Linked DNA regions of Homo sapiens: region 2 is linked to region 1. The links come from fine-mapping of genetic effects on gene expression. Tissue or cell type: visceral fat. Region 1 holds a variant in brackets; the other region holds the start of a gene. All regions are shown on one strand. Distances are between the middles of the regions.

Region 1 (5,225 bases):
GTTTTCTAATGGATGTGGTCAGCGAGGGGAAGGCAAGACCAAGGATGAAGCCAGAATGTTCCCCTGAGCACCTGGAGGGAAGGAGCGGTGTCCATAGAGGACTTCAGAGGGGAGGCTTTCAGGGGCGATAATTCTGAGAATCTCCCTTACATCCAAATGGGAACAGAACAGAGACAGCTGAATGCAAATGCCTGGAGTTCAGGAGAGGGGTCCAAGCTGAAGATGTTTCAATGCACAGCTGGAGTAGTGATGACCACAGATGAGGTAAGGAAGGGGTGAAGACAGGCAGAGAGGAGGACACACATTTGTCATTGGTGCTTTCATGACAACATATGTTATCTTCAATCTTTTTGATAATAGTCACCCTAACAGGTATGAGGTGATGTCTCATTGTGGTTTTGATTTGCATTTCCCTGATGACTGGTGATGTTGATCATTTTTTCTCTGCCTGTTGACCATTTCTGTGTCTTTGGGGAACTCGCCATTCAAGTCCATCATGCCTTTTCAAATCAGATTATTTGTTTTCTTGCTGTTGAACTCAACTTGTTTGAGTTCCTTATATATTCTGAATATTAACCTTTTACCACATGTGTGGTTTGCAAATATCTCCTCCCTTTCCATAAGTAGTCTGTTCACTCTTTTGTGATTGTTTCTTTTGCCATGCAGAAACAAACTAAAACAACTTTTTAGTTTGATGAAATTCCATTTATCTATTATTGCCTTTGTTGCCTGTGGTTTGGTGGTGTTAACTTAAACATCACACAATTACCAATTTGGAAGAAAGAGCTTTATTTCTTATAAAGGATTACAGCCTGCAAGGTGGCCATCCAGACAGGCTGGGAAGCAGAGCCTGCAGAAGAGGCTCAGAGACAAGCACTTTAAGGGAGGGAGGAGAAAGACAGGAATTTAAGCTGAATGGGCTGGCCAAGTATACATATTCAACAGGTTACAGAAGGAGCTTTGAATATTCATGAAAGGGTTTTGACCCAAGCATATTGAACAAACACGCATGTTACATGTAATCCATGTTCACCTTAGGGTAGAGACTTACCATGTAAACGTATTACAATTAGGCCCTATATGTCAAAAGGTCTTTGGAGGACACAGCAGCCCTCAAGCGCGCAGCCTCTGTAAAACCTGCCATAACCAGTCCATGCTCCATGTTCTTATCAAGAGAAAGTTACTGAAATCAGTCTTTTGTCCAGTCACAAGGGTGTGGGGTCAGTGTCTGCTGGTGAGCTGTATATTGTTTTAATATTACTTATATTGAGACCAGTGCTTGCTTAGCTACCAGAGAAAAATAAACATATTGTGGCAGTTAGAACATAGTTTATTCTCTAAGTGTGGGGGTGTGTAATTTAACCCCTGCCTGGCATGGCCTTAGGTTTTGTATATGATTTGGTATCTCATTGCCACAGAGTCTGTTCTGCCAGTCTTATGATCTCCATTTCCATATTAAGGTTAATCAGTTGCTGCATCTCAACTGCAAAAGGAAGGGGCTATAATGAGGTGTGTCTGACCTCTCGTCCCATTGTAGCAGCAACTCAGTTTTTAAGATTTTTCTGGGGTCCCCTTGGCCAAGAGGGGGTCTGTTCAGTTGATTACAGGGCTTAGGATTTTATTTTTAGTTTACAGTATCTAAAAAAATCTGAGCCCAGATAATGTCAAGAAGCTTTTTCTCCTGTTTTCTTCAAGGAGTTTTACAGTTTCAGGCCTTACATTTCCATCTTTAATCCATATTGAGTTGATTTTGTTTACGTCTGAGATAACTGGCAATGGCAGCTTTGATGAACATGTGTGAAAGGGTGGGGGACTTGATTGGAAGCTCGTTTGGAAAATAACCGAAGAAAGGAAGGTAGGAAGAGTGACGACAAACAACCTCTTGAGGAGTTTTGCTGCAAATGTTACCCACCCTTGGAGGGGTGAGTTGGCCCTAGTGGGTCCTTTCTCTGCCCCCTGCCACTTACGCCAATAGAATGAGACCAGAATCGGCAAAGCGGAGAAGAAACTTTATTCATTGATCAAGAAATGGAGAAAGGGAGTTCATGTGCAAAGCACCTTCTCCCAGGGGTTGGTAAAAGGGGATCTTAAGGGCCCTTAGGGCAGGTAGTTGGAGACTGAGGCGGGCAGATCTGGAAAAAGGTGGGTTCCTTCAGGAGGGGCTGAAGTGTGCACACTCTTGTGTTTTCTTTTGTACTTGGCACCTTCTGTGCCTAGCAAGGCATAGTTCTCGCCCCTGAGTGGAGATTTTAGTATGGTAATGAAGCAAGAAATCAGGTCAAGGCCTGCACTGAGGCAGGAATCCAGGTCCAGGCAGCACGTCTGGGCTGAACTCATCCCCTGGCTGGTTCCTGTTGCTGGCTCCCAGCCTTTGTTTCTGGCAGCAAGCAGAGCTGCAAGCACAGGTTAGTTTCACAGGTTTTGGGGCTTCCTGAGAGAACTGAGGTCATGTTGCAGAAACACAAAAAGGAACAGAGAAATGGATCTGGAGAAGAAGAATTTTTCTCAGTTCTTACCCACAATCTCCCAGAGGTGCTCAAATTCATAGACAAAGAAAGTAGAAAGTTGGTTGCCATGGGTTGGGGGCAGGATGGGATAGGAAGTTATCATTTAGTTGGTATAGAGTTTCAATTTGGCAAGATGAAGAAATTTCTGGAGATCAATGATTAATAATTGCATAAGAGTGTGAATGTACTTAGTGCCACTTACCTGTGCACTGAAAAATGGTTAAAATTGTAATTTTTTAATGTATATTTTAACACAAATTTTAAAAAGCACTAAATATTTGATCAGCCTCCTC[G/A]CCAAATAAGAAAAACTGATGGCAAATAATCACATGAAAGCATTCTCAACACCATTTGCTGCTACGAAATCACAGATTAGAACCAGAATGAGGTAGCAGTACATACCTATTAGAATGGCTACAAAACAAAACCCAAAGAAATTTTTTTTTAAATCCGGATAATACCAAATGTTAATGAAAACGTAGAGCAACCAGAACTCATATATTCTGCTGGTGGGAATGTAAAATGGTACACCCACTTTGGAGAACAGTTTGGCAATTTCTTATAAATTCGAACTTACACATATGACCAAGCACCCGACTCCTAGGTATTTACCCAAGAGAAATAAAAAAACTAGTGTCCACACACAGAAATCTGCATGTGAATATTTATACTAGTTTTACTTTACAGTCACCAAAACCTAAAAACAATATGAATGTTCACCAGCCAGTAAATGTATACAAAATGGGGATCTATGAAAACAGTGAGGTATGAGTCAGCAATTTAAAAACAACACCCCATCACATGGACGAGCCCCAAATGCATTAAACCAAGTGAATGAATCCAGATTTTAAAGGCTACATTTTGAATGATTCCGTTTATATGACATTCTTTAAAAGGCATATCAGTAGGGTAGAGAATAGATTAGTGTTTTTACAGGAATTAAATAGGGAGGGACAGTTGCCTACCAAGGAACATCAGGAGGGAATGTTTTAAGTAATGGCACTTGGTAGTGTCTTGACTGTGGTTGTGGGTATATAGCTACATACATCTGTCAAACCTCAAATAATTGCATATGAGAAATACTCAGTTGATGAAATTGATGGTACCTAAATTCAAAATACACTAGAGATGACACTACGCTCTCACTAGAATTGTTAAAATATAAAGACTGACAATACCAAGTGTTAATAAAGGTGTACAGCTACCGGAATTCTGGTGCATGGCTGGGAGTAGTGGTAAAAGTCAAAGCCATTTGGATAACGATTCTGCAATTCCTACAAAAATTAAATATGCAGGTATTATTTGAACTAAAAATTCCACATCTTGTGTATAAATGAGTATAAAAACATGTCTATAAAAAGACTTCTACTTGGATACCTATAGAAAAAACCTGGAAAATCTTAAACGTCTATCAATAGGTGAGTAAATAAAAGATAATACTACTTAGCAATAACACATTGTGAACTACAGGCATATACAACAGCTTGGCTCAGTTTCAAAAAATGATTGCTGAGTGACAGAATACAGACACAATTTTTTAGTATATTTCTAGGAAATTCTCAAGTAGACAAACTAACTCACCATGACAGCGGGTATATTGATGATTTCCCAGCATACGCGATGGGAATGGTGAGCTGCAAAGAAACATGGAAAACCATTAGAGTGGAAGAAGTGTTGTGTATCTTGACTGTGGCAGTCACAGCGGGGCTGCATACACTTATCAAAACTCACTGAAATGAACATTTCAGGTGTGTGCATTTTATTTCATGTAAATTATGCCTAATAAAGTTCACTAAATACATCCAGTGAAATTCACATCTTCATATTTAACATTCTGACCCATAAATACAATATAATTTGCTTTACTATTAAGACCAAATTATTGCATTCCTATTATGTGCTACATTCTTATTTTTAGAAGAACTTACAAGGTATTATGTTACTTATTAAAGACTCAATTCCTTATATATTAAGAATGCAAATGGCTGTCTACATTAGCAAGGACAAATGAACATTTACCTAGATAATACTGTTACAAAGATTTTACTAATATATGGTACCAAATATTATTATGCCCTGGATTTTGAGGATTTGCCAGATGAGATGGAAAATCATGTCACTGAACCTAAAATTATTTTTATCTATAAACAGAATGGGCCAGGACATTTAGTTGTGTGCTTGTCAGGAAGGTGATAGCTGGGTACAGTCAAATCTGTGCCACAGGATCTAGGAAGGCAGATTTCCAAATCTCACATAAGAGATCAGCACGATCACATTGTCTGAGATTTTTTTTTTTTTTTTTTTTTTTTTTTTTTTTGAGACAGAATCTAGCTCTGTTGCCCAGGCTGGAGTGCGTTGGTGTGATCTCGGCTCACTGCAAGCTCTGCCTCCCGGGTTCATGCCATTCTCCTGCCTCAGCTTCCTGAGTAGCTGGGACTACAGGTGCCCGCCACCACACCCGGCTAATTTTTTTGTATTTTCAGTAGAGACAGGGTTTCACTGTGTTAGCCAGGATGGTCTCGATCTCCTGACCTCGTGATCCACCCGCCTCAGCCTCCCAAAGTGCTGGAATTACAGGCTTGAGCCACAGCGCCTGGCCTGTCTGAGACTTCTGACAAACAAGAGGGAGCAAGAGGGTTAGGAAACCTGTGAAAAACTAAATTCCAACAAGACAATTAATGCCCAAACAAGCAACTCACGAAAGACAAATAGTCATAAACA
Region 2 (5,225 bases), 21 kb before region 1:
AAAAGTAAGATAGAGAAGTGAGCAAGGACACCCGTGGCCAGCAGGATCTGGACCAAACCAGTAAGGGGCAGTTCTTCAGAGCTATGCATGTGCATTAGAGAGAAAAAGTATCCTTAACATGACCCTGTATGATAATCAGCTCATTAAAGTTCATGCATATGGACTGCATATTATCCATGTACTTAAAATTATGGGATGGGTCAAAGTAACTAAGCAACATACTTAACCATCAAAAAGGCAGGCACTGGCCAGGCGCGGTGGCTCACGCCTGTAATCCCAGCACTTTGGGAGGCCAAGGTGGGCGGATCACTTGAGGTCAGGAATTCAGGACCAGCCTGGCCAACCTGGTGAAACCCCATCTCTACTAAAAATACAAAAATTAGCCAGGCATGGTGGCGGGCGCCTGTAGTCCCAGCTACCAGGGAGGCAGAGGCAGAAGAATCGCTTCAACCCAAAAGGTTGAGGTTGCAGTGAGCCAAGATTGTGCCACTGCACTCAAGCTTGGGTGACTTCGTCCCCACCTCACCACCACCCCTTCCCCCCGAAAAAAGGCAGACACTGGATAGAGATTTGGCAGCCTTGGGAAGCGAAGAAAAACAAAAAAACAAACAAACAAACATAAAAAGACCCAAAGTAATGCTGATCTCACCTCATAGAGATCAGTTCGCTCTCCCTCTCCAAGAGTGTGATACTGTGCTTAATAAACTGCTGCTTCTTGCTTTGCTGTCTGTGTGTGTCTCATCCAATTCTTTGTTTAAGACACCAAGAGCCTGGAACTGCATGGCACCATCCGGTAACACTTCTGCCCACTGAGATACTGCAAATATCCTTATGGGGAGAGAGTGGCTGGGCAAGGAGGAGGCGCCCAGGAGGCAGATTGGTCTGCAGGATGAGATACTAGCTGCAAATGCAGGGATTGGAGGTGAGGGCGGGGAGTGGCTTCGGACGCCCAAACCCAGCATCTTCCTCTCTCAATCGTTACAGCCAAATGATCTCTAGGTTATGGACAATTAGGGGACAGTGTGGGCTGAGCAGATCAATGCAGTTGTATGGAAGAAAACAGACTGGGATTTTCTATGTATACAACATCTTCAGGAAAACCTACGTGAAGTTAGAATTTTCAAGGCAGCATGTGCCGATGATAAAACTACATAGAACAGCAGGAAGACTATTATCATTAAAGTGAGGCTAGGGGCTCCTTCAGGAGGGAGCGGGGGCATGGCCAATAGGAAAGGGGAATGTAAGGGTGAATGAATTAATAAAATCTCTTTCTTCATTTCAAGGGACAGACTTGACAGTTCTTTTGTGTTCTAGTTCTTCAAGGGTGCTTATTTTGTGTGAATCACTGAGTTGGTTTTTAGGGGACACTTTTATGTACATGTCTTGTGTTTCTCCCCGCTCAAAAAAAACTGTTTCAAGAAAAGCTGGCCTGGATCTAAGGGGGCTGCAGCTTGCAGGATTTTTCCCACTTCCTCCCAGCCCAGTCACACAGTTTAAAATAATCTTCTGTTGAAGTCAGGTGCGTGTTTCTTCTCTCAGAAAATCGCGCCCATCACTGAGGGTGGACGCCCCGGGGCTGGTGTCTTTGCTCCACGTCTCCTGTTCACCTGAACCCCTAGGAGCAGTTCCTGCAGGAGCAAAGCCCCAGGGCCAGCAGACCCCTCACACTCTGCACTAACCAGGCCTCATGAGATAGCAGTGGTGAAGGGAAATGTCCTTGTGCTCAGAGAGCTGTGAGGATGGGAATAGTGTCTGCTCTTTTCATATTGATCCTTTCCCTTATGACTTTCCTGTCTACCAAGCCCCACAATACAACAATCACAGCCTCAGCTTCCCCGGCCTCCTGCAGGCTGGGCTCCCCTCCGTGTCCTTGGCGTGTATCAACAGGCGCAATCCTCACCTTCACAGCCCCATGTCCGTCTGCTCGGTCCTCCTGAGACTGAACCCCCGACCTAGGGGAGAGTGACCCCACCCTGCCTGTGCCCCCCACTGAAGCTCCTGTCATGGGGAGCTCAAACGTCAGGAGACTCAGTGTCTCCCCACCACACAGTGACTCCTTGGGGACAGTGTCCGGCTCTGCTGTGTTGACCTCATTGTGCAGAAAGGGGGTGCCCACCTCGTGGCTGCTGAGGGAGGGATGAGAGGCTGCCTGTTCACCCCACCTGCACCCCTGTCTCTCATGGCCCCGAGTCCCACTTCTGAGCTACGCAGACATCCACAGCCTGTGACTCAGGGGTCTGGGCAGATGGGAGTTATTTTCACCCTGCAGAAAATATCACCTAAAGGGAAAGGCATTGAGAGGGAGGCAGGAGGTGGGGTGGGCCCTGCATGGGGTGGGAATCTGGGTGAGTCTGTCTCCCGCTCTGGCCTCAGGGACCCAGGAGTGAATGTCGGGTGGTGGACGGTGGATCTCCCAGGGCTGACCCAGCCCTGACAGTGTCTGTGTGTGAAGTTCTTCTTCTAAGGAGGTCACTGTTTTGACCTCACCACCGACTTCCTGTAGGGCCTCTTCTAAGTCTTGAGCCCGCAGTTCCTGAGAGAAGAACCCTGAGGAACAGACGTTCCCTCGCGGCCCTGGCACCTCCAACCCCAGATATGCTGCTGCTGCTGCTGCTGCCCCTGCTCTGGGGGAGGGAGAGGGTGGAAGGACAGAAGAGTAACCGGAAGGATTACTCGCTGACGATGCAGAGTTCCGTGACCGTGCAAGAGGGCATGTGTGTCCATGTGCGCTGCTCCTTCTCCTACCCAGTGGACAGCCAGACTGACTCTGACCCAGTTCATGGCTACTGGTTCCGGGCAGGGAATGATATAAGCTGGAAGGCTCCAGTGGCCACAAACAACCCAGCTTGGGCAGTGCAGGAGGAAACTCGGGACCGATTCCACCTCCTTGGGGACCCACAGACCAAAAATTGCACCCTGAGCATCAGAGATGCCAGAATGAGTGATGCGGGGAGATACTTCTTTCGTATGGAGAAAGGAAATATAAAATGGAATTATAAATATGACCAGCTCTCTGTGAACGTGACAGGTAAGGCACGGGCTCCAAGAGAGGCCAAAGGCAAATGTGATGAGGGCTTTAGGGCACGGCTGAGACGGGACACATGTCCTGGGAGGGGGCCGGGGGTGATGGACTCAGGAGAGGAGCTGGACCAGAGCCTGAGCTTCCCCAGGACCGCACCTTGGATGCCCCTCCTGATCCTGCAGGCCCCTCCCCTCACCAGCCCTGACCCACAGGCCTGACATCCTCATCCTGCCTCTGACGCTGGCATTGTGGCATGTGGGGCCTTATGACTCCTTGTTTTGGGGCCTGTCCTAGGCATGGCCGGGGTTTAGCACCATCCCAGGCCTCTCCCCACCAGATGCCAGAAGCACCCACTCCACCCATGCAGTGAGACAATAACAATTATCTCCACACATTGTTAAACGTCCTGGGGGGTTAAGTCCTCCCCAGTTGAGAGCCTTAGGTCTACACAACCCCGTGACTCTCTCAGGCCAGGCCAGGGAGGAAGCACTTCCTGGCGCAAACCAAGGGCAGCAGAGGCACCTGAGCCTGGACAGGGAGACTCAGCACACGGCCCCTCCATCTCTCATGCCCTGAGGTCCTCGGAGATCCACATTTAGATGCTCAAAAGACAGGAGGGACCTCCACGATGGTCCAGAGGCCGGGAGGGCAGGACCTACGTGTCTGGTGCAGGCCCTGGTGCTCCAGGGAAGCCCGGAGGTAGGAGGTGGGACACGGTCTCTTCTCCTCCCTGGGTGGGTCTCTAGGGTCTCTGAGCTTCAGGGTTTCCTTCACTCTGTGCAGAGGGAACCAGTTCCTATAGCATGTGGGTTTGTAGTTTCTCTTTCGTGCTGGGTTGAGGTCTCCAGCTCCTCTCCAGCCCCTCTCCAGCCCCCTGTGGGTCCCACAGCCCTGCCCCTCCTCTCCCTCCCACTTCTCTGCTCACACAAGGAGCCCAGGAACCCTCTGTCTCAGAGATGCTGCTGCCTCTCTTGTGGGCAAATGAAGAGAGGGACAGTCGGGGCTGGGCTGAGCCTCATTTCCCCACAGCGTCCCAGGCCCCACTGTCAAGATACAGGCTGGAGGTGCTGGAGTTGGTGATGGTGCAGGAGGGCTAGTGCGTCTCTGTGCCCTGCAGTGTCCTTTAACCCTATTACAACTGAACTGACTCTAGCCCTGTCCATGGATGCTGGTTTAAGAAAGGGATCAATATACAATGGAATAATCCAGTGGCCACAAACATCCCAAATGGAAAAGTGCAGGAGACACGGGGCCGATTCCACCTCCTTGGGGACCTGAAGACCAACAACTGCTCCCTGAGCATCAGAGATGCCAGGAAGGGGGATTTGAGGAACTACTACTTCCAGGTGGAGAGAGGACAGATAAGATGGAATTACAAAACGAAGCAGCTCTCTGTGAATGTGACAGATAAGGCACAGGCTCCAGGAGACACCACAGGGAAAGGTCATGGGGGTGGCAGCGAAAGCCTGGGATGGGGCCCCTGCCCTGGGAGAGGGCTGAGGGTGAAGCGAGTTGGGCTCAGGGCAGAAGCTGAACCAGAGCCTGAGCTTCCCCCAGGGCTGTACCATGGATCCTCTGTCCTGATCCTGAGTCCCCCTCTCTTCACCAGCCTTGACCCACAGGCCCAACATCCTTATCCCCGGTACCCTGGAGTCTGGCTGCTTCCAGAATCTGACCTGCTCTGTGCCCTGGGCCTGTGAGCAGGGGACGCCCCCTATGATCTCCTGGATGGGGACCTCTGTGTCCCCCCTGCACCCCTCCACCACCCGCTCCTCAGTGCTCACCCTCATCCCACAGCCCCAGCACCACGGCACCAGCCTCACCTGTCAGGTGACCTTGCCTGGGGCCGGCGTGACCACGAACAGGACCATCCAACTCAATGTGTCCTGTGAGTGCTGAGCCAGGACGCCCTGGTCCCTGATGAGGGGGGGACGTCCCTGAGGGCAGAGGATGGGGTCAGGGCTCGACACTGGGTGCTGGGTCCCAGAATCTGGGCTGGTTGTGGGATCAGGAGGACGCTGGCTCCGCCTTCCCCATTTATGCAGCTCCTGGGGAGACAGGGCCAGTGTCCCCAGCCCTCACAGTGATGCAGGTCTCCATGTCTTTCTGTCCCAGACCCTCCTCAGAACTTGACTGTGACTGTCTTCCAAGGAGAAGGCACAGGTAGGATGGAGCCCCCTCCCTGGGGCTGGGGGAGCAGGGC

The links. PIP is the estimated chance that this variant, and not a neighbour inherited with it, causes the effect.
Region 2: SIGLEC7 starts here. The variant in region 1 is fine-mapped to the expression of SIGLEC7 in visceral fat (GTEx, PIP above 0.99).

Annotation. Positions count from the first base shown.
Region 1 is chr19:51,161,136-51,166,360 of GRCh38, forward strand. It overlaps LOC101928517 (a long non-coding RNA gene), which reads right to left. Exons shown (of 5, transcript NR_110732.1): 2 at 4,086-4,138. Among named protein-coding and RNA genes, the nearest start is that of SIGLEC7, 21 kb to the left of the region's middle. The variant G/A (reference allele first, on the strand shown) is at 2,801.
Region 2 is chr19:51,139,775-51,144,999 of GRCh38, forward strand. It overlaps SIGLEC7 (sialic acid binding Ig like lectin 7), which reads left to right and starts at 2,527. Exons shown (of 7, transcript NM_014385.4): 1 at 2,527-3,028; 2 at 4,632-4,910; 3 at 5,138-5,185. The coding sequence starts at 2,596. LOC124904749 (a long non-coding RNA gene) reads right to left here and starts at 736. Exons shown (of 3, transcript XR_007067310.1): 1 at 650-736.